Linked DNA regions of Homo sapiens: region 1 is linked to region 2. Evidence: fine-mapped expression QTL. A gene starts in region 2. The other region holds a variant in brackets. All regions are shown on one strand. Distances are from middle to middle. Region 1 overlaps MRPS21 (mitochondrial ribosomal protein S21). Region 2 holds the start of ANXA9 (annexin A9).

The links. PIP is the estimated chance that this variant, and not a neighbour inherited with it, causes the effect.
Region 1: its variant is fine-mapped to the expression of ANXA9 in whole blood (TOPMed, PIP 0.98).

Annotation. Positions count from the first base shown.
Region 1 is chr1:150,295,430-150,307,162 of GRCh38, reverse strand. The region is part of intron 2 of MRPS21 (mitochondrial ribosomal protein S21); the gene reads right to left. Among named protein-coding and RNA genes, the nearest start is that of MRPS21, 7.4 kb to the right of the region's middle. RefSeq lists an enhancer at 9,564-10,121. The variant A/T (reference allele first, on the strand shown) is at 6,135.
Region 2 is chr1:150,976,128-150,986,496 of GRCh38, reverse strand. It overlaps ANXA9 (annexin A9), which reads right to left and starts at 4,205. Exons shown (of 14, transcript NM_003568.3): 1 at 4,118-4,205; 2 at 3,914-4,010; 3 at 3,317-3,407; 4 at 3,063-3,159; 5 at 2,428-2,522; 6 at 2,103-2,216; 7 at 1,821-1,911; 8 at 82-161. The coding sequence starts at 3,391. It overlaps LOC105371438 (a long non-coding RNA gene), which reads left to right and starts at 4,992. Exons shown (of 3, transcript XR_922135.3): 1 at 4,992-5,076; 2 at 5,184-5,293; 3 at 6,411-6,539. RefSeq lists enhancers at 2,820-3,681, 8,507-9,008, 9,009-9,512 and a cis regulatory region at 8,739-9,652.

The DNA.
Region 1 (11,733 bases), 680 kb after region 2:
CAGGCAGGAGAAGTGTTTGAACCTAGGAGGTGGAGGTTGCAGTGAGCTGAGATTGCACCACTGCACTCCAGCCTGGGCAACAGAGTGAGACTCTTGTCTCAAAAAAAAAAAATTGGGGAAATAAAAAAGCAATTAATTACATGGCCCTTGCTCTTGGAGAGTTTATAGTCAAAGTTATGTTCTCAAATCTACTCTACCACAACACACCTGAGGGATATGATACAGTACCTGAAGAACATGTCTCCCTACAGCAATGATTCTCAACTAATGGGGCATTTCAGAGACCTCAACTGGGGAGAGCCATTTTCAGTAAGAACAGAATCACTAGGGGTGATTCTTAAGGTGATTCTCTTACTTAAAGTTCCATCCTGTCAGGCTGGTGGCTCACACCTGTAATTCCAGCACTGTGGGAGGCCGAGGTGGGCGGATCACCTGAGGTCAGGAGTTTGAGACCAGCCTGACCAACATGGAGAAACCCTGTCTCTACTAAAAATACAAAATTAGCCGGGCATGGTGGTGTATGCCTGTAATCCCAGCTACTCGGAAGGCTGAGGCAGGAGAATTGCTTGAACCCTGGGGGCGGAGATTGCAGTAAGCCAAGGTTGCGCCACTGCACTCCAGCCTGGGCAACAAGAGTGAAACTCCATCTCAAAAAGATCACTTGAGGTCAGGAGTTCAAGACCAGGCTGGCCAACATGGTGAAACCCCACCTCTACTAAAAATACAAAAATTAGCCAGGCGTAGTGGTGGGCACCTGTACTCAGTAGGCTGAGGCAGGAGAATCCCTTGAACTCGGGGTGGAGGCTGTAGTGAGCCGAGATGGTGCCACTGCACTCCAGCCTGGGCAACAGACTCTTGTCTCAAGGAAAAACAAAACAAAAACAAACTCACAGGAGGCATTAAACCTGAACTTGAGAACAAGAAAGTGGTTGTGAAGGGATCCTAAAGAACAACTCATCTGAAATGTGAATAAGTAGGTTGCCCTATTTCCACTCTCTTTTCCTACACCAATTATTGCCCTAAAACATAAATCAGATCATGTCACTCTGGTGCTAAAAAATCTTTCCTAATATACAGAGTGGCCTAAGCCACTAAAGTTCCCAGAATCATCTGCACATCAGAACTGCCCAGGGATCTTTTAAACATTCCGAACCCTGGGCCACACCCAGTCCAATTAAATCACAAAGGAGAGGGAAAGGGACATGAGCAGGTTTTTCAGTTTCCAAGGTGATTCCAATGTACAGACAGATTTTGGAACTACTAGTCTAAGCTCAAAGCCCAAACAATTGCCCCCTATATATATATCTTTTAATAACCTGCCCTACTGATCACTTGAGGTCAGGAGTTCGAGACAAGCCTGGCCAACATGGTGAAACCCCATCTCTACTAAAAATACAAAAATTAGCTGGGCATGGTGGTGCCCACCTGTAATCCCAGCTACTCGGGAAGCGGAGGCAGGAGAATAGCTTGAACCTGGGAGGTGGAGGTTGCAATGAGCCGAGATCAAGGCACTGCACTCCAGCTGGGCAAAAGATGGAGACTCCATCTCAAAAAACAAAAACAAAACACGTGCCCTATAATGCCTATGCTCTAGTCACACTTAAGTATATGCAGTTCTCCAAGCATCCTACATACTTGTTTTTTTCTTTGCTCATGATGTTCCCTTTACTTGGAATATCATTCTTTTCTTTTTCTTCCTGATGAAATCCTACTTGTTCCTCAAAGGCCCAAATCAATTGTTATCACATCTGTAAACTAGTTCAGGTGAAATCAAACTTTGGCATGCAGTAGTCATCTGGAAAGCTTGTTAAAACAGGGATTGCTGGCTGGCCATGGTGGCTCACACCTGTAATCCCAGGACTTTGGGAGGCCGAGCTGGGAGGATCACTTGAGCCCAGGAGTTTGACACTAGCCTGAGCAACATAGTGAGAACCCCATCTCCACAAAAAATAAAAATTAACCAGACATGGTGGCACACACACCTGCACTCCCAGCTACTTGGGAGGCTGACATGGGAGAATGGGAGAAATGCTTTATCCCAGGAGGTTGAGACTGCAGTGAGCCATGATTGTGGCACTGCACTCCAGCCTGGGCAAGCAAGACCCTATTTCTTTCTTTCTTTTGAGACGGAGTTGCGCACTTGTTGCCCAGGCTGGAGTGCAATGGCGCAATCTTGGCTCACTGCAACCTCCGCCTTCTGGGTTCAAGCGATTCTCCTGCCTCAGCTTCCCAAGTAGCCGGAATTACAAGCACCAGCTAATTTTTGTTATTTTTAGTAGACATAAGGTTTCGCCATGTTGGCAGGCTGGTCTCGAACTCCTGACCTCAGGTGATCCACCCGCCTCAGCCTCCCAAAGTGCTGGGATTACAGGCATGAGCCACCGCAACCGGCCTTTTTTTTTTTTTTGAGACAGAGTCTCGCTCTGTTGCCCAGGCAGGAGTTGCAGTGGCACGATCTCGGCTCACTGCAACCTCCGCCTCCCAGGTTCAAGAGATTCTCTTGCCTCAGGCTCCCGAGTAGCTGGGACTACAGACACGCACCACCACGCCCAGCTAATTTTTGTATTTTTAGTAGAGACGGAGTTTCACCATATTGGTCAGGCTGGTCTTGAACTTCTGACCTCATGATCTGCCTGCCTTGGCCTCCCAAAGTGCTGGGATTACAGGCATGAGCCACTGCGCTTGGCTGTGAAACCCTATTTCAAAGAACACCACAGATTGCTGTGCCACAGTTTCTGATTCTGTAGGCCTAGAGTAGGGGCCAAGAATTTGCATTTCTAACAATTCCCAGCTGATATTGCTGCTGATGGTCCAGGGACAACCAACACCATGGCACCATTTTTTTTTTTTTGTAGGCAGGGCCTCGCTCTGTTGCCCAGGCTGGAGTGCAGTGTCACCATCTTGGCTCACTGCAGCCTCAACCTCTCAGGTTCAAGCAATTCTCCCGCCTCAGCCTCCTGAGTAGCTGGGATTACAGGGGCGTACCACCACACCTGGATAATTTTTGCATTTTTAGTAGAGACAGGGTTTCACCATGTTGGCCAGGCTGGTCTCAAACTCCTGACCTCAGGTGATCCACCCACCTCGGCCTCCCAAAGTGCTGGGATTGCAGGCGTGAGCCACCACGCCCGGCTGATGTCTCTTTTATAGCACTGATCAAACAGTATTACATTGAACCCCTCATTGGGTTGTGTCTTTTCTAAGGTTAGAGATCAAATCTGTATTCACTTTTGCACCTAACAAAATACTTGGCAAAGAACAACTAGGAAATGTATGCCAAAAATGAGTCCTCTAGATGACTAATAAATGTCCATAGCACAAGGGATTAAGTGACCTTACAATATATACAGTTATTGGGGATATAGCTCAGAAAGCCTCAATAGTATTACCTTTACTACGATGGCATATTAGAGTTTAGATAGCATTTTTATATCCATCATCCTAACTACACTCCTATGAAATTGTTTAGGCAAATAATGTCCTCTTTTTATAGATGAGGAAACTGAAGTTCAGAGAGGCTGACCCGCCCAAGATCACAAAATGGAACTATAAACAGAATTCAGGTCTTTAGTAAAGTGCTCTACAACAGTATTCTGCTTCTCAAACAAAAACCACCCATTTCAGAAGACAAACTGTTGCAGTATCCATGGGTAAAAGAGGGAGTGAAGAGCTGGGCTAGACTCTTCAATCAGAGTAAAGAGGAAATGGAAGCCGATAAGGGACACTTGGATAAAAGAATGATCTAAACATGTAAACATTTATTTCTGCTGAGACTTTGTGTTTAATACTGTCTAATGAAGGTTGCTTTTTGGACTAGAAAGTAGTATATTGGAGAAAATATAGAAAAAAGCCCCTGAAAGAAAAAGATTGGATATATAATGTAAAAAGTACAAGGAGACTGGATTTGAGAGAATATAAAAACGACAGAGACCCTGAGTAAATATGACCTAGGAAGACGAACCTATTGGAATGACAAAGACAGTTTAAAAGTAGGATGAAACAACACTGCAAGAGGAGGAAGGGGTTGAGTATGACTCAAGGAACCCTACTGGAGTTCCAAAAGGCTTCTAAAACAAAGGTGATCATCTTACCAAGGAAATGCCTGTACTGTCAGGCAAAAGGGCAAGACAAGGAAAAAGAATAACAAAAGAACATAAGAATGGTGAAGGGAAAAGAAAGAATATAATGATGGGGGTTGGTAAATGGCATTCCCTGGATGTACTACTTACTTCCAAAACACAGACCAAATAAATTCCAAGATGCCAGGTGAGGATTCCCTCCCTTACCCGACACGTTCTAGTCATACTAAAAAAGGCACAGATTATCTTCAAATGCCCCAGAGTCCCTATAGTAGAGGTATCTACTCAACTTTACCTCTAACAGAAAAGGATGCAAGAAAAGCTTTGTAAAACACAAGAATAGAGGGGGTGTTACTAATGATGCTTCCTTCTGCTTCCAAAAGTAGTTCAAGGACTAGTACATCAAGAGCTTTAGAGTAAACAGATCAGCCTGGAGTTCGGGCGCCTGGCAACCTAATACTGAAGGAGAAACCAGCTGCCAGTTTTAGTGAAATTCAAATGATTATGTAAAAGGAGCCAAGCTGCCTGGAGCGGGGGGAGGTGCGGGTGGCAGACTCACATGTCAGTGTAGCCAGTCTACGTCAGGACAGACGTGTATGCAGAAGGACTCAATGGACCCAGAAGGTAGCCCACTAGGAGTAAAAGGAGTCAACAGGGCATGCTTCCAGTGTACTCACCTTTCTTTGCTTGGGGGCCAGCCAATCATGCAGGGCTTCCTAGCAACCCCCACTCTCCACCTTCTCATCCCGGGGCACCAATGAGGGCCCCCAGTTATATAACAGGCATTTTGTGGTGGCCTCACTGGACAGACACGTAGGCTATTTCCTTTGTAAGACTCTCTCTGTACTCCAAACATGGTAAAGCTTTAATCACCTCCCTCTAGACTCATTTGCTCTCCTACCTATTGTTGTAATTAGACCACAGAACAAGCAAATTATTTTTAAACTACCAGCTATGAGAAAGCTGAAAGAGATCAGGAGAGGCCTGGAGTGTGAGAAAGATATACAGAAAAAGTGGCTAGAGAGAGGACATTTGGGAAAAGCAGAGAAAAAGAAGAAACAGAAAAGTGCATCAGTCAGAAAATGTGTTTAACAGGCAGCAGGAAAACAGAAGATTGGATCACTCCAAAATCAGTCTGCTCACGTATGCAAGCTTGAAAGTCCTTACCTAGAAAATTATTCTAAGAGGCCGGGCACGGTGGCTCACCCCTGTAATCCCAGCGCTTTGGGAGGCCGGGCGGGCCAATCATGAGGTCAGGAGTTTGAGACCAGCCTGGCCAACATCGTGAAACCCCGTCTCTACTACAAAAAATTAGCCGGACGTGGTGGCAGGTGCCTGTAATCCCAGCTACTCGGGAGGCTGAGGCAGGAGAATCACTTGAACCCGGGAGACAGAGGTTGCAGTGAGGCGAGACCACGCAGTCTGGGCAACAGAGAGAGACTCCGTATTAAAAAAAAAAGAAAGGAAAAAGAAAATTATTCTAAGACTGAAATATTTGTTCATTTCCCCCCTGCCCCGCGAAGCTATAATACAATTTATGGGACTCTGAGTCTATGGGACTTGAATTTCTTTTCCTTTTTTGAGACGAAGTCTCGCTCTCGTCCCCCAGGCTGGAGTGCAATGAATGGCGCGATCTCGGCTCACTGGAACCTCCGCCTCCTGGGTTCAAGCGATTCTCCTGCCTCAGCCTCCTGAGTAGCTGGGATTACAGGCACCTGCCACCATGTCCGGCTAATTTTTTTTCTTTTGAGACGAAGTCTCGCTCTCGTCCCCCAGGTTGGAGTGCAATGGCGCCATCTTGGCTCACTGCAAGCTCCGCCTCCCGGGTTCACGTCATTCTCCTGCCTCAGCCTCCCGAGTAGCTGGGACTATAGGCGCCCGCCACGGCGCCCAGCTAATTTTTTGTATTTTTAGTAGAGACGGGGTTTCACTGTGTTAGCCAGGATGGTCTCGATCTCCTGACCTCGTGATCCGCCCCCCTCAGCCTCCCAAAGTGCTGGGATTACAGGCATGAGCCACCGCGCCCGGCCAATTTTTGTATTTTTTTTAGTAGAG[A/T]CAGGGTTTCATCATGTTGGCCAGGCTGGTCTTGAACTCCTGACCTCAGATGATCCACCCGCCTCGGCCTCCCAAAGTGCTGAGCTTACAGGGGTGAGCCACCGCGCCTGGCCAAATTTATTTTTCTAACCACTCCTCTTCTTTCTTAAAAAGAAAAGAATATAATTCTTTTCTTTTTAAGCAATGTAAATTGCTTTTTTCCAAATCCTACTCCTACTTTGGTGTTTTAATCCCTGAAGAAAAGGTAATACTGTGCTTCTTAACCAGGGTAATTAACAGAATGCCAAAGGATACAAGTTTCTGGACAAATTTGATGCATCTGCCTGGAGGCACCAATTTTAACTCGAAGGAGTGGGGGTGTTACCCATAAAACAGATGCAATGGCAACGAATACGAAGTTCACCTTACATTTTAATTTAGGGAAGCTTCAAAGAAATTCCATGTTTGCTTATAGTAGCAGAACCCCTATAGTTCATTCACTCTCCTCTGCTGTTAACGACACTTCAGTAAAAAAGTTTGACAAACATTAAATAAGTGACAAAAAAGATAAAGGAACATTTATGTTCATTAAGTAGACATTTAATGAGAGCTTTGGATGTGCCAGACACTTTGGTAAATCCAAGAGATACACAAATGAAAAAGCATAGGTTTCTGTCCTTAAGGAGGCTACAAGCCTTTTTTTTTTTGAGACAGGGTCTCACTTTGTCACCCAGGCTGGAGTGCAGTGGCGCGATCTCGGCTCACTGCAACCTCCAGCTCCCAGGTTCAAGCGATTCTCCTGCCTCAGCCTCCCGAATAGCTGGGATTACAGGTATGCACCATCATACCCGGCTAATTTTTATATTTTTAGTAGAGACGGGGTTTTACCATGTTGGCCAGGCTGGTCTTGAACTCCTAACCTCAAATGATCCGCCCCCCTCAGCCTCCCAAAGTGCTGGGATTACAGGCATGAGTCACTGTGCCCAGCCAGGAGGCTACAAGTCTATTATAATAATTTTCAATCCTGGTGAAATCTCATGGTATGTTTTTTAAAATGCTGCCATCCAGGTTGCAACCCCTGGAGATTCTGATTCATCTCAGATTGGGCCCTGGCATTAGTTTTGTTTTCTTGATGGTTCGTTCCCTAGGTGATCCTAATAGGCAGCCAGGGTTGAAACCACAGGGTGTCACACTGACCACTCTCCGGCTCTCTAATATTAACACTTCGACCCAGGAAATAGGTTTGTGTAAAATGCCAGTCACCAACAAAAAGAGAACCATAAAAGTAGTATGTGGGCTGGGTGTGGTGGCTCACACCTGTAATCCCAGCACTTTGGGAGACAGAGGCGGGTGGATCACCTGAGGTCAGGAGTTCGAGACCAGCCTGGCCAACATGGTGAAACCCCGTCTCTACTAAAAATACCAAAACTAGCCAGGCGTGGTGGCAAGTGCCTGTAATCCCAGCTACACGGGGGGCTGAGGCAGGAGAATCACTTGAACCTGGGAGGCGGAGGTTGCAGTGAGCCGAGATCATGCCACTGCACTCCAGCTTGGGGGACAAGAGCGAGACATCGTCTCAAACAAACAAACAAACAAACAAACAAAAAACAGAAAAAAAAACAGGAAAAGCAAAAACTGAGTGTTGATTAAATTAAAAATATAGTGGCTGGACAAGGATTTTTAAAAGAGGCAGATAAAAAGGGGTATAGACAATCTTAGACAAAGAAATAAGAGTCTTCTCTCAAAAGATAAGAGCTGGCCTTATATTTTCTGCAAACCTGGTATCAGTGAAGAGGATCAGGAAGGAGATTAGAAATATTTTGTTTCTCAGATTCTGTTTCAAATTTTAGGTGTAAATGGGGATGCATTCCATATATGATATGGGGCATCACTGCAGTCTCTGCCTCCCAGGTTCAAGCGGCTCTTCTGCCTCAGCCTACGGAGTAGCTGGGATTACAGACCTGTGCCACCATGCATGGCTAATTTTTGTATTTTTAGTAAAGACGGGGTTTCGCCATGTTGGCCAGGCTAGTCTCGAACTCCTGGCCTCAAGTGATCCACCATTCTTAGCCTCCCAAATTGCTGAGAATACAAGACTGAGGCACTGCACCCAGCCGCTACTCTCTTGATACAACTGTAAGAAGTGGTTCAGCTGGGCATGGTGGCTCACGCCTGTAATCCCAGCACTTTGGGAGGCTGAGGTGGGCAGATCACGAGGTCAGGAGATCGAGACCATTCTGGCTAACATGGTGAAACCCCGTCTCTACTAAAAATACAAAAAATTAGCCGGGGTAGTGGCATGCGCCTGTAGTCCCAGCTACTCGGGAGGCTGAGGCAGGAGAATCGCTTGAACTCGGGAGGCGGAGGTCACAGTGAGCAGAGATTGCGCCACTGCGCTCCAGCCTGGGCGACAGAGGGAGACTCCGTCTCAAAAAAAAAGTGGTTCAATAAATAATACTGTACCACAAATTTTGTTGTTTTTTGTCAAAGTAGCTAATTTTCTAAAAACAAAATTCTTGCTTTTGTGTTATCTATACTTTAGGAATAAGGGAACTAAAACTGAGCCTGTTGGAAATTTGTTTTACCATTAAGCAACAGCTATCCTTTGATCTTTCAATAACAAACATCTCAACAACCATGGCCAGAAGACCTATCTAAATCTACCAAAATAAATCATACAGAAGAAGATTTACAGGGAGAAGTCAGAAAAAAAGAGTGAAGTTACACGTAATACATGCCTTTTCCCAAATTCAACATTCATCTCCCTAGCTAACTCACTGCAGGGTCTGGATGTTACCTATAAAGACGTTCATTTTAGGCCAGGTGCAGTGGCTCAAGCCTGTAATCCCAGCACTTTGGGAGGCCAAGGCGGGTGGATCATGTGAGGTTGGGAGTTAGAGACCAGCCTGACTAACCTGGAGAAACCCCATCTCTAGTAAAAATACAAAATTAGCTGGGCTTGGTGGCGCATGCCTGTAATCCCAGCTACTCAGGAGGCTGAGGCAGGAGAAACGCTTGAACATGGGCGGCAGAGGTTGCGGTGAGCCGAGATGGCACCATTGCACTCCAGCTTGGGCAATAAGAGTGAAACTCTGTCTCAAAAAAAAAAAAGTTCATTTTGTACTTCCAAGATAGCAAAGTAGGGCCAGAGAAAGGTCATTAGACATAATATACTTCTCAGACATGCCACCAGAAGGTATGAAATAGGAGAGTTAGAAATGAGGAGAAACAGAGAAAAATGAAACAGGATACCTTACAACCTGGTACTTATCTTTACTCTCAGCATAGGTGACAATGTAGAGGGAACAGCTTCAGCCCAAGGATATAATTGTTATGCACATAGAATTAAGTGATGTGGCTGACCCCAGACCAGATTTTTTTTTTTGAGTCTTACTCTGTGGCCCAGACTGGAATGCAGTGGCACGATTCTGGCTCACTGCAGCCTCTATTTCCCAGGTTCAAGTGATTCTCCTGCCTCAGCCTCCCAAGTAGCTGAGATTACAGGCGCCTGCCACCACATATGGCTAATTTTGTATTTTTAGTAGAGACAGGGTTTCGCTATGTTGGCCAGGCTGGTATTGAACTCCTGACCTCAGGTGATCCACCCGCCTGAACCTCCCAAAGTGCTGGGATTACAGGCATGAGCCACCACGCCTGACCCTAAGACCAGATCCTTTTAAAAGACATAGAAACCATTCTGAGCCTGCAACTGCTTCTCATTTACACAGCTTCTGACAGCATTTTTTCTTTTTTTTTTTGTAGACAGAGTCTCGCTCTGTTGCCCAGGCTGGAGTGTAGTGGCACGCTCTCGGCTCACTGCAACCTCCTCCTCCCGGGTTCAAGCGATTCTCCTGTCTCAGCCTCCTCAGTAGCTGGGACTACAGGTGTGTGCCACCACGCCCGGCTAATCTTTTGTATTTTTAGTAGAGACGGGGTTTCACCGTGTTAGCCAGGATGGTCTCGATGTCCTGACCTCGTGATCCGCCCGCCTTGGCCTCCCAAAGTGCTGGGATTACAGGCGTGAGCCACCGCGCCCGGCTGACAGCATTTTTTTCCTCACTGTGGTCTTCTGCCATCCAGCCTTCCACACCTAGAACTCTCTGCTTTGCTAAGAACTAGGTTCCCTTTCCTTTGCCCTCTCAGTCCTCAAGAACCCTACCAATATTTAAACCCAATCAGATGAGGATTCTGGTTTTTTTTTTAAAGCGACACCTGCTGAAATGACAAGACAAGGATTCTAAATTGGAAAATGAACCACCATAAGTCTTTCCATTTCTAGTAAGACTAGTAATAATTATTAAAGAACATTGCACTAAAAAGATGTGCTTTAGGCTCCTCTCCACCATTCAATAACTGCATAACCCAATAAAGATAATCTGATCTTCCAAGGCTTCCCTTACTTGTGAAATAAAGCTACCACATTAAAGGCCTTAATGCAGCCCATGCAATATCTTTCCTACATTTTTTTTAAGAGACATGGTCTCACTATGCTTCCTAGGTTAGAGTGGAGTGGTTATTCACAGGCACAACAAGAGTGCACTCACACTACAGTCTTGAACTCCTGGGTTCAAGCAATCCTCTTGCCTCAGCCTCTGGAGCAGCTAGCACTACAGGAGCCCCTTCCTTACAATTCTTTGATAATTCAACTCAACAAGCGTTTGTTTCTCCAAATGTTACTTCACATTGGGGAAAGAAAATGACGCGTGAGTCATACCAGAAAGTCAAAATCCACACAACTGGTGAGAAGGGAAGGTTAAGAACTTTTTGCTTGAGAATTCAGTGGTAAAGTACTACTAGGGCTGGGCCGGATGCAGTGGCTCATGCCTGTAATCCCAGCACTTTGGGAGGCCAAGGCGGGTGGATCACGAGGTCAAGAGATTGAGACCATCTTGGCTAACGTGGTGAAACCCTCTCTACTAAAAATACAAAAATCAGCCAGGCGTGGTGGTGGGCACCTGTAGTCCCAGCTACTCAGGAGACTGAGGCAGAAGAGTCAATTGAACCCAGGAGGCGGAGGCTGCAGTGAGCCGAGACTGCACCACTGCGCTCCAGCCTGGCAACAGAGCAAGACTCCGTTTTAAAAAAAAAAAAAAAAAAGTATTACTAGGGCTCTTCTACATCTCTTAGCCTGGCATTCAAAAATTTTCAATGAAGCTATAAAGCTCCTCCACCCCAGCTAGTTTGTTTCCATTTATGTATTTTTCCTTATGCTGTATCTTTCCTGAAAACTTGTAAGCTTTCCCATCTTTCTTTTTTTCCCTTTCTTCTTAATATTTTTAGAAATGGGGTCTTGCTATGTTTACCAGATTGGTCTTGAACTCTTGGCAACAAGCAATCCTCCCCACTAGGCTTCCCAAAGTGCTAGGATTACAGGTGTGAGTCATCCCACCCAGTGAGCTTTCCCATCTTTTGCCTGCTTCTCTAGGATGCCAATCTGAATTCACCTTTTCCTTTAGCTTTGTCCCACACCAATCACTCCCTCAGCTTTCTATTTATCATACTACGTTCCCGCTTCCTAGCAACTTCACATCTTGATTTTCCATTTGGGCTCTTTTTTAAGTCTTCTAAAGAATTCAGGTTCCTCATAAAAGGAGTCATTACGCTTGGGCAACATGGCGAG
Region 2 (10,369 bases):
AGGACAGCAATGCTCCCTGCTCCAGCGTGTCTCCTTGCCTGGTGAACGTGACTCCCTTCCTTGCAGGTCAGTCCTCCTCACCTTGGCCAGGGCCAACAGCAGGTCCTGCAAGATGCCACTGGTCTCAGATGTGATGTCATCCACAGCCTCCACCTGGAAATCTGGGGTGGGGTGAGGAGCTCTCTGAATCCTCCTGAGTTTTCCTAGTGTAGATATCCCCAGGACCTGCCAAATGCCTGACCCGCTATACCCTGCCAGCCCTGCTAGCCCCTGCTTGGAGTAGCTTGATGGCTGCTAATTCCCAGGATGTAAGGCACAAGTACCATCACGGCCACTCTAAAAACATCTCTAAGTTGTGAGGTGTGCAGTGGCTTCATCACCAAGCACCAACCTGCTGGGCAGGAGGCAACCATTATTAGAGTTGGGGCCAGGCAGTGAAGAAGAGCTAGGGAAACCCGTATTATAACACAAGATGGTTAGGACCTGGCACCCTCATTGGAGGTAAGGAAAAATGATATGAGAGGTGGGATATGAGGAAGGAAAAGAGCAGGAAAGGGAGAAAAAGAAAGAGAAAAGGGAAACAGATGCAAGAAGGAAGGAAGGTAGGAGAGGGATTAAGAACATAGGCCACGGCCAGGGCGGTGGCTCATGCTTGTAATCCCAGCACTTTCAGAGGCTGAGGCAGGAGATGGCTTGAGCCCAGAAGTTCGAGACCAGCCTGGACAACACAGCGAAACCCCATCTCTACAAAAAATACAAAATTTAGCTGGGCATGGTGGTGGCACACCTGTAGTCCCAGCTACTTAGGAGGCTGAGGTGGGAGGACTGATTGAGCCCAGAAGGGTCAAGGCTGCAGTGAGCCATGATGACATCACTGCACAGCCTAGGCTACAGGGCAAGACCTTGTCTCAAAAGAAGAACATAGGCCAAGATTAGACATCAAAGGAAAATTGGGGAAAGCAAGAAAAAGAGGTAGGGGTGGGGGGAAGGGGTGGTAAGATGAGGATGGGAAAAAGCCACAAATTAGTGGGTGAGACACTTGTAGCCAAGCAAGGCCAGCCATCAGGGACATGAAAGGTGACACCCATGACTCAGAGGGCAGATTCCCACCTTTTCCTCAGGCTGCAGCATGGCTGGGTTCAGCTTGGAATGTGGTGTGATGGCAGGGATGGCAAGGGGCTGGGAAGGTGACATGAGTACCTTTGGGACTGTCACTTTGGAATCTGCCTTGGAGCTCCAGATTAAGATGGTTAATCATTGCTTCTCTCTCTTTATTTGTGTGTGTGTGTGTGTGTGTGTGTGTGTGAGAGAGAGAGAGAGAGAGAGAGACATGCTCTCACTCCTGTCACCCAGGCTGGTGTGCAGTGGCAGTGGCACGATCTCAGCTCACTGCAGCCTCAACTTCCCAAGCTGGGGTGATCCTCCCACCTCAAACTCCTGAGTAGCTGGGACCACAGGCGCACACCACCATGACCAGCTGGTTTTTTTGAATTTTTAGCACAGATGAGGTTTTCCTTTATTGCCTGTGACTGGTCTTGAACTCCTGGGCTCAAGTGACCTGCCCACCTCAGCCTCCCAAAGTGTTGGGGTGACAGGCATGAGTCACCGTACCTGGCCTGCTTCTCTTTTTTTAATGATCACATCTGGGTCTCTCCCCTGAGAGACTGAGGCACTGGTGGGGGCAAGAGGAAAGACCCCAAGGGAATAGAACTTAGGCAGCCAGGTTGCCAGATAGCTCACCTATGGGGAGTACAGGAGAGGAGTGGCCTGTCCTACAGCCCCTTCTCCAGCATCTGGGACCCCTCCCTCTATATTCTTACTGTGTTTGTAGACTGCCAGGCACTCCTGCAGCTGGGGTGGGGTTCGAGTGGCAAGAATTTCAATGGCCACGTCCACAGCAGAATCTGAGGCCTACAAGAAATTGGGAGTCTACTCTCAGACTGGCCGTGTCATTAGGATGGCAGACAGAGGGGCAGACGCTGGCTGCTTCTCCTTCTAAGAAACAATATGGGACGACGAGAGGGGGACTCTCGTCTTGCAAAAGCAAGGCTGACAGCCTTCTCCCTTCCCCAGACACCCCAGCAAGTCTCCCCTCCTGCTACCTTCAGAGCTGTCCTCAATTCCTGGGCGTCAAACTGGGCTGTGGGCTGCAGCAGAGCCATCACAATCCTCTCCAGGTTGCCGGAAAGTGCTGCCTGTAGAGACTTCATCAGGTCCTACAATAAATGGTCCTCACAGCAGAGGGACGGGGGTGAGGGGAAGGGCCCCAGAAGTGTGGGGAGGTTTGGGAAGATTTGGCTGGTTTTCATCTCAGGCCCTGTTTAGCCAGGAAGCAGGGGCTGGCCTCAGCGGCTGTTGCTGTCTCTCGAGTCCTCCAGGGGGTTTCTCACCCCAGTCCACTGCTGTGGGAGGTCAGCATGGCCTCACCTGTTGGGTGCGCTCCTGGAAGTTTCGTGAGATGAGCTGCCTTTGCTCTCTGCTCCGGTTGGTCAGCACGTCCACAATGGCACTGCGGTCCACGCCTGAACCGAGATGAGGGCTGTGCTGTGAGCAGGGTCTTTACATAGTGGGATGTTCCTACTCCTTGGAGGAGGGAAGGCGCTCCAGGAGAGGGCTGGGAAGGAAAGGAGCAGGGGCTATATCACCCCCACTTCCATTTTATCTCAAAAGAAGTTGCAAATAAAATGTCAAAACAGCATGCAAATCTGACCCAGACCAAGGCAAAGGTGGCCTGGTGTGGTGGTTAAAAAAAAATACGACTTGGGGGGATCGGCTGACCTAGATGAGAATACCACCTCCGTCATGAGCTGAGTGACCTTGGGCAAGCCTCTTAATCTCCCTGAGCCCCAGTTTCCTCATCTGGAAAATGGAAATAATAAGCCTTGCCTCACAGGGGTGTTGTGAGAATGGGTTTGACACACCTACTGTGGCGCCTGACATACAAGAATGAAGGCATTCCACAAACATTTCTCCAACATCACTAGTTCCTCCTTCCTGGCTCCTCCTTGGTCTACAGATTGGCTCTAAAAGGCAGTCTCAAGTGCCGGGGGAAAGGGGCTCACCTTGGCCAGTAATGGCCCTCAGTAGCCTCTGCGCATCCTTGTCCACGCTGAAGTTCAAGAAGGTCCTGAGGGTGCCCAGGGTCCCCCACGCTGCAGTCTGTGGGAGCACAGGGTAGTTGGCAAGGGCCAGGGCCAGGCTGCCTACACCTCCTCAGCATAACCTCAGGGCCTGTCCTCCACTTTCCTGCCTCCCATCCTCTCACAGCCCGAGCTGAGATACTAAAAGTGATCTCTAAAATCCCAACAGCCCCTACCTTGCTGGCCAGGCCCAGGTGGCTGAGGATCTCCTGGGTGAGGGACGGTGCCATCTTCCCGCCAGTCACAGACATGGTGCTACTGGTTGCCCTGGGGAAGGAAACAGGAGCCCACAGAGCTGAATTTCCTGGCCCTTCAGGGACTCCTTATGACCCCCCCGAGACCCTGGACCCTGGGTTCCAGTCACCTGTTCCTTTCCTTGCTGCAGAAAAAAAGATCAACCTGCTTAGGCTTGGAGCCAGAAATGGAGCTGAAATGGTGAGGTAAGAGGGGAGCCCCCACCTTCCCCACCTCTCCCCACTCCTTTAGGAAGTGGGGATTGATGCGGAATGCTCCTGGACCAGGCGCCAACCCTCCCTGATGCCAGGGTCAGCACCAAAGCTCCTCAGGCCTTGGTCCGCGGTAGATGCCTCCCTTCTGAGGTCTATGGCCCTCCTTCCTGGGCCTGGCTGGGGTCTCCTGGGCAGTGCAGGGGAGCTGAGGTGAGGTGGCAGGATTAACCACGCAGAGTGGAAGACAACTCGAAATAGCATCTTCCCCCACCGGCAGCCCCAGCTGACAAGCAACCCTCAATTCCTGCCTGTACAGCTGCCTACCTGCTCAGCAGCACAGGAGCACAGGCCGGAATCTCTAGGTCAGCAGGTGCAATCTCTTAGCTGATGTGAGCAAGAGTTCTTGCAAGTACGTGGATGCCTGGACAGAAAGGAGGCACTCTCATGTTGGAAAAGGAAAACTCATTTTTCCCTCCCCCAAGCAATCAACAAGCCCTCCTGGCATGGGGCCGTGGGCCCAGTACTTACTCAGAGGTGCCAGAGGTGAGGTGGGTGTCGTTGTTGTGGCCTGGTAGCTTGCCTGTGTGAGCACTGCCTCCGGTGTGGCCTGGTAGAGGAAAGTGGGGGTGTGTGCAGCCTAGGCTGAACAGCCAGTCAGATGACCTCTCTTAGGGACGAACCCAGCAGTTGTCTGACTCTGGCCCCTCCCAGACGTGGGAGAGGACCGGGCTGTACAGAGTCCCACATGCAGACACCTTCCTGCCCAGCATCTCTTCTCCCAGGAACTGGGCCTCAATCCATGTGAGTGAACTCCACTCAGCCTCTCAGCGGCTCAGCCTCAAACACAGGAGGCTTTTATGCACTGCCTTCCCTGTGGGTCCAGGTGGGACCACAGAGACCTAGTCTCAAAGTCCAGCTTCTGACCTGGCTCTGCCCCAGCTTCTGACCTGGCTCTGCCTCTGGCTCCAGCTCCCTGGGGGGCAGGTCAGACAGGCTGCAGGCTGATTTCAAGGCTGATAGGGAAAAACCTGTTGGGGCACATACCAGCAGGGCACCCCAGCCTGCACCCCAGAGGGGGTCCCAGCCCAGAAACTCCCTTGACTGCTGCCTTACTAGAGCCAGCTGACCTAGGTGGAGAGTGCCCAGGGATTGTGTATATCTGTGGAGAAGGAAGGGCACAAGTATTTGGGAGTGGAAGTTGATGAACAGAGTCAAGAGAGAAAAATGCAAAGGGTGTTACCTTCAGAGGGAAGCTCTATGCTCCCAAAAGGCAACAGGGAGATGGGGGAGGCTCCCTTGCCTGGTTTCTTAGATTGCTTCTGTTGCCTTTTGGCAGCCTGGGCCCTGTGGCTGTTTTAGCTGCAGGTGATGCAACCCCAGCAGCTGGACTTGAGGCTGTCTCTGCACAGAGCAGCAGGTGAACAGCCCTGTGGAGCCCCCGCCCCGCCATGCAGCAACTGCTCCAGCCTCACAGCTGGCTCCCTCAGGTCTAAACACAGCCTCTTTCCTGCCTCCCTGGAGAGCCTGGGTAGGGGCGGGGCACAGAAGCTACAGCCCTGCCTCCACTCACTCCTCTGCCTCTCTCCCAACTCAGGAAGGCCTTCACTGGCATTCCTACATCCCTGGAGGAGGGACCTGCAGTGGCTCCACCACACTGAGTAGACCATGCCGGAGGACACGCCATGAAAGGATATTTCTGTGGCGGTAATCACTGCTCCTCACTTTTCTCTCCTGTTAAAAGGAAAACATGCACCTGTGTCAGAACTGGAGAATGAGGGTTCAATATCCAGCTCTGCCACCTATGTTCTGTAAGCTTCGCTAGTCCTTTCAGCTCTCTAAATGGGAGGATTGAGAGAGACGGAGGCTGTGGGACATGCTGGGGCCTCCGAGGACAGGTTTCCTGGGATGATTAAATGAAGTAATGTGTCCACTAAAGAACTTATCCATGTAACCAAACACCACCTTGTCCCCAAAAACTATTGAACTCATAAAAATAAATAAATAAATAAATAAATAAATAAGGTAATGTGGCCAGGCACGGTGGCTCATGCCTGTAATCCCAGCACTTTGTGAGGCCGAGGCGGGTGGATCATGAGGCAGGAGATCGAGACCAGCCTTGGCTTACACAGTGAAACCCCGTCTCTACTAAAAATACAAAAAATTAGCCGGGCATGGCGGCGCATGCCTGTAATCCCAGCTACTCGGGAGGCTGAGGCAGGAGAATCACTTGAACCTGGGAGGCAGAGGTTGCAGTGAGCTGAGATGGCGCCACTGCACTCCACAGCCTGGGCGACAGAGTGAGACTCCGTCTCAAAAAAAAAAAAAAAAAAAAAAAGTAATCTGTGTAATTGCATGTGGCAGAGAAAAGTGCCCTGTAAAGTAGGGGTATTAGATTAAATAAATAAATATACAGGACATGCAGCTTAATCAGAATTTCACGTAAATGAGGAATCATTTGTTGGTACAAGTATGACCCAAATATTTCATTAAATATACTAACATTTTTTTTTTTGAGGCGGAGTCTCTCTCTGTTGCCCAGGCTGGAGTGCAGTGGCATTATGTTGGCTCACTGCAAGCTCCACCTCCCGGGTTCAAGCGATTCTCCTGCCTCCGCCTCCCGAGTAGCTGGGATTATAGGCGCCTGCCATCATGCCTGGCTAATTTTTTGTATTCTTAGTAGAGATAGGGTTTCACCATGTTGGCCAGGCTGGTCTCGAACTCCTGACCTCGTGATCCACCTGCCTTGGACTCCCAAAGTGCTGGGATTACAGGCGTGAGCCACCGCCTGTAATTATTATTTTTTGTTTATCTGAAATTATAGTTTAACAGTGTGTCCTGTATTTCACCTGACAACCCCAAAATGGAACTCAGTCTCAGCGTGGTGGCTAAAAGCAAAGCTTCTGGAGCCAGACTTCTCAGAGTCGGGATTCTGGTCTTCTGTGTGACCTTGGGCAACTATTCTGTGCTCAGTTTCCTCATCATCAACAGACAAGTAATAGTGTTTATGTTATAGGTTGTTGTGAGAATTAAATAACTACAGTGCATATAAAGCACTTAGAAGAGTTCTGGGCACAGCGCTGTTAAGTAGAAATGTCACAATGTTATCAAATATATAACGATAAGTATTGTTATATGGTAACTGTTACTGTTGTTATTACTTACCTCCTTAAGAATTCCGATCTTGGCTCGCTTCTGAAACTTTTCTGGCCAATCCCCAAAATGGCCACAAGAGGGCGTCAGCAGCCACTGAGAGTCTCGAGCCCCCTAGTGGCCCCTTGAGGTCTCTGGCTCCAGCCCCACATATTAAGGGGCTGTCTCAGCCCACTTGGGAAGTGCAGCCTCCTGAGGACGCCAGGTTCCTGGGTGGAATTGGTATGCAGGTAGCATCAGGGGAAGAGCCTCAGGTAGATACCTACTCAGGGGAGCCCCCGAGGCTGACCTCAGACACATGCAGGAGACTGGGTGACCGCAGTTAGGCTGGGTAAACACGGTACTGCAGCTCCGCAGCCGGGGTCCCCCTGGCCCTCGGCTTTCTGTACCCTTCAGAGTTTCTTCTGGCTACCTGCCCAGCAGATTTAGGGAGAACCGAAGGAAGCGTGAGGCCTCCTGTTTCCTCACGCCGAATCTCTCCAAGGGGCTCCTGGCCGGCATGCCAGGCTGAACTCTGAATTTGGAGAAGTCCAACAGAGTCTCAGTCACATGGCAGAAGCGAAGTCCTTGCCTGTGAGGAGTGTGTGTGTGATGCGTTCACAATCGCTGCATTGAAACCTGCTACAAACTCATTCCTCTCCCTAGGTTTTGTTTTGTTCAACTTCAGGGCCGGATTGCAGTTGTTTACAGTTGTACTGATCACCTTCCTTCCCCATGTTGTACATTTTAGAATTGCAGAGTTGGAGGAAATCTTAGAGAGGATCTAATCTACCACCTTTTCTTTTCTTTTTTTTGAGACAGAGTCTCACTCTGTTGCCCAGGTTAGAGTGCAATGGCGCGATCTCGGCTCATTGCAACCTCCGACTCCCTGGTTCAAGCAATTCTCCTGCCTCAACCTCCTGAGTAGCTGGGATTACAGGCATGCACCACCATGCCCAGCTAATTTTTGTATTTTTAGTAGAGACAGTGTTTCACCATGTTGGCCAGGCTGGTCTTGAACTCCTGACCTTGTGATCCGCCCACCTCGGCCTCCCAAAGTGTTGGGATTACAGGCATGAGCCACTGCGCCCAGCCTCTAATCTACTACCTTTTCATTACTGACTCAAGGAGTCTGAGTGACTTCCCGAGGCCATGGAGTTGGAACTAGCATCCATGTTTCTCAGCTGCCTCTCAGTGTTTTCTTCATCCCTCAATGCAGGCGAGGCAGATTTGGGCTCCCTCTCAGTGGAATACAGGGGAAAGGCAGCCACATACACCGCCTCCACTGTTCATGCATGTCCACCTCTTCAGCCTCCAAGTCCCACATTGCTTTTATTTATTTATTTATTGAGACCGAGTCTTACTCTGTCACCCAGGCTGGAGTGCAGTGGTGTGATCTCAGCTCACTGTAACCTCTGCCTCCCAGGTTCAAGTGATTCTCCTTCCTCAGCCTCCCGAGTAGCTGGGATTACAGGGCCCACCACCACACCCAGCTAATTTTTGTATTTTTAGTAGAGACAGGGTTTCACCATGTTGGCCAGGCTGGTCCCAAACTCTTGACCTCAGGTTATCCGCCCACCTCGGCCTCCCAAAGTGCTGGAATTATAGGCATGAATCACTGCACCCAGCCTTTTATTTATTTTTGAGATGGAGTCTCACTCTGTTGCCAGGCTGGAGGGCAGTGGCATGATCTCGGCTCACTGCAACCTCACCCTCCTAGGTTCAAGCAATTCTCCTGCCTCAGCCTCCAAAGTAGCTGGAACTACAGGCATGTGCCACCATGCCTAGCTAACTTTTGTATTTTTAGTAGAGATGAGGTTTCACCATGTTGGGCAGGCTGGTCTTGAACTCCTGACCGCAGGTGATCCACCCACCTCGGCCTCCCAAAGTGTTGGGATTACAGGCATAAGCCACCACGCCTGGTCCCTACATTGCTTTTCTGCAAATACTTTCCATTGCCTGATTTCAGAATACATAGAAACTCCTCTTGGCTATTTTACCTCTCTGTTAGGAAATGTTTCCTCCCCGATACTCCTGGCCCCTGAATCTCCATTAGGTACTAGCTAGGCTCTGCTTCTTACCCAAATAGGCTTCAGTGTTAACAGTTCCACCTGACCTGAAAAAACCTACCTTCCACATTTGGGCTCCCTGTATGCTTGCCCATCCACAAAGCCTGCCCAGATATCTAAACTCGGGGCTGAAGGCCTGGAGATGGCCTGTCCTCTCCTTGGGACAGTTCAGCAGCCCATACAGAGGAAGTGAGTCACTGCAAGGCAGGCAGCACTTGGGGCACTGTGGGCGTGGCCATGCCAGCCTGCGTGTTGGGGGATGGGTTGGAAGGGTGGTGATCACAGTCTCCGGTCCAGCCAAGGCAAGCGGTGTGTATGCTCCCCAAGCGTGCTGACAAAGCTGGTCGCATCATCCCGGTGCTGGCTGAGGCCCAGTTTCCCCTTCTCCATCCACCTTCTCTTTTGTCTCCTGGGGGAGGAATATACCCTCTTATCTTTATTTCTCAGGCCCTGGTTATCCAACTTCTGCCCCAGAACTTCCCCTCCCCACTGCTATCTTAAAAAAAAGAAAAAAAAGTTAACCAGTCTTCAGTTCTCCTGAGGAAGCATTTGAAAAGTCTGGTAGGGACTACAGGAAAGCCTGGCACTTAGGAAAACCACAAGAAAGGGATTCAGAACTAAAAGAAGGAAGATGAATAGGACGGAGGTGTGGAGAGTGTTAGAGACCCGAAGGTGAGCTGCGGCCCAAAGAGCCCTGGAACTATGCTGGAAAAAAGGTGTGTAGGTGTGTAGCAGATAAGGACTCTGGGGAGAGCACTGAAGAAAGGAAGAGGGAACTTTGGAATTAGAAGGCTGAAGGAGGAGAGTTCCAAGGGGGTAGAAAGAGACAATTGGGATGCAAGGTGGCTCATGCTTGTAATCCCAGCACTTTGAAAGGCCAAGGCGGGTGGATGGTTTGAGCTCAGGAGTTCACGACCAGCGTGAGCGACATGGTGAAATCTCAAAAATACAAAAATTAGCCGGGCATGGTGGCGTCGCCTGTGGTCCCTGCTACTTGGGAGGCTGAGGTGGAGGATAGCTTGAGCCTGGAAGGTCGAGGCTGCAGTGACAGAGTGAGACCTCCTCTCCAAAGGAAAAAAAAAAAAAAGAAAGGAAAGAAAGATACAATGGAAGATATGCTAATAAGGGAGGGAGGAGAAAAACACAGCTGGAGGGGTTGCTGGAAACTGGGAGATCAGGCAGGCCTGGGGCTTAGAAAAGCCTAGAGAAACCCTGGGAGCTGGTTAGGGGCCACCACTCTCATCTTTCCCATGGTGTGTCAGGGCTGCGGGTCCCCCTGAAAAGAGAGGCAGAACAAACAGTTGGGTCGGACAGCCTCTACCTCCTTACCCTCCAGAAAGGGCCTGAGATGAGGGATGGGCCCTCCAACTGGATTAGTGGGGGTTGCACTCCTTCCTACGAGTACTTGACCAGATAAACGGGGAAACAAGCTACTGTCAGAGGCTCTGATTGCAACAGCATAAAAAAGGCAATACTTCATCTAGGTGAGAAATTTGACAAAAGTACCTCTCCATGGAGTAAGCTGCAGCTCTCCCTGTATAGGAGCCCTCAAATACATCTTAGTCACCACTCGTTCACGTTA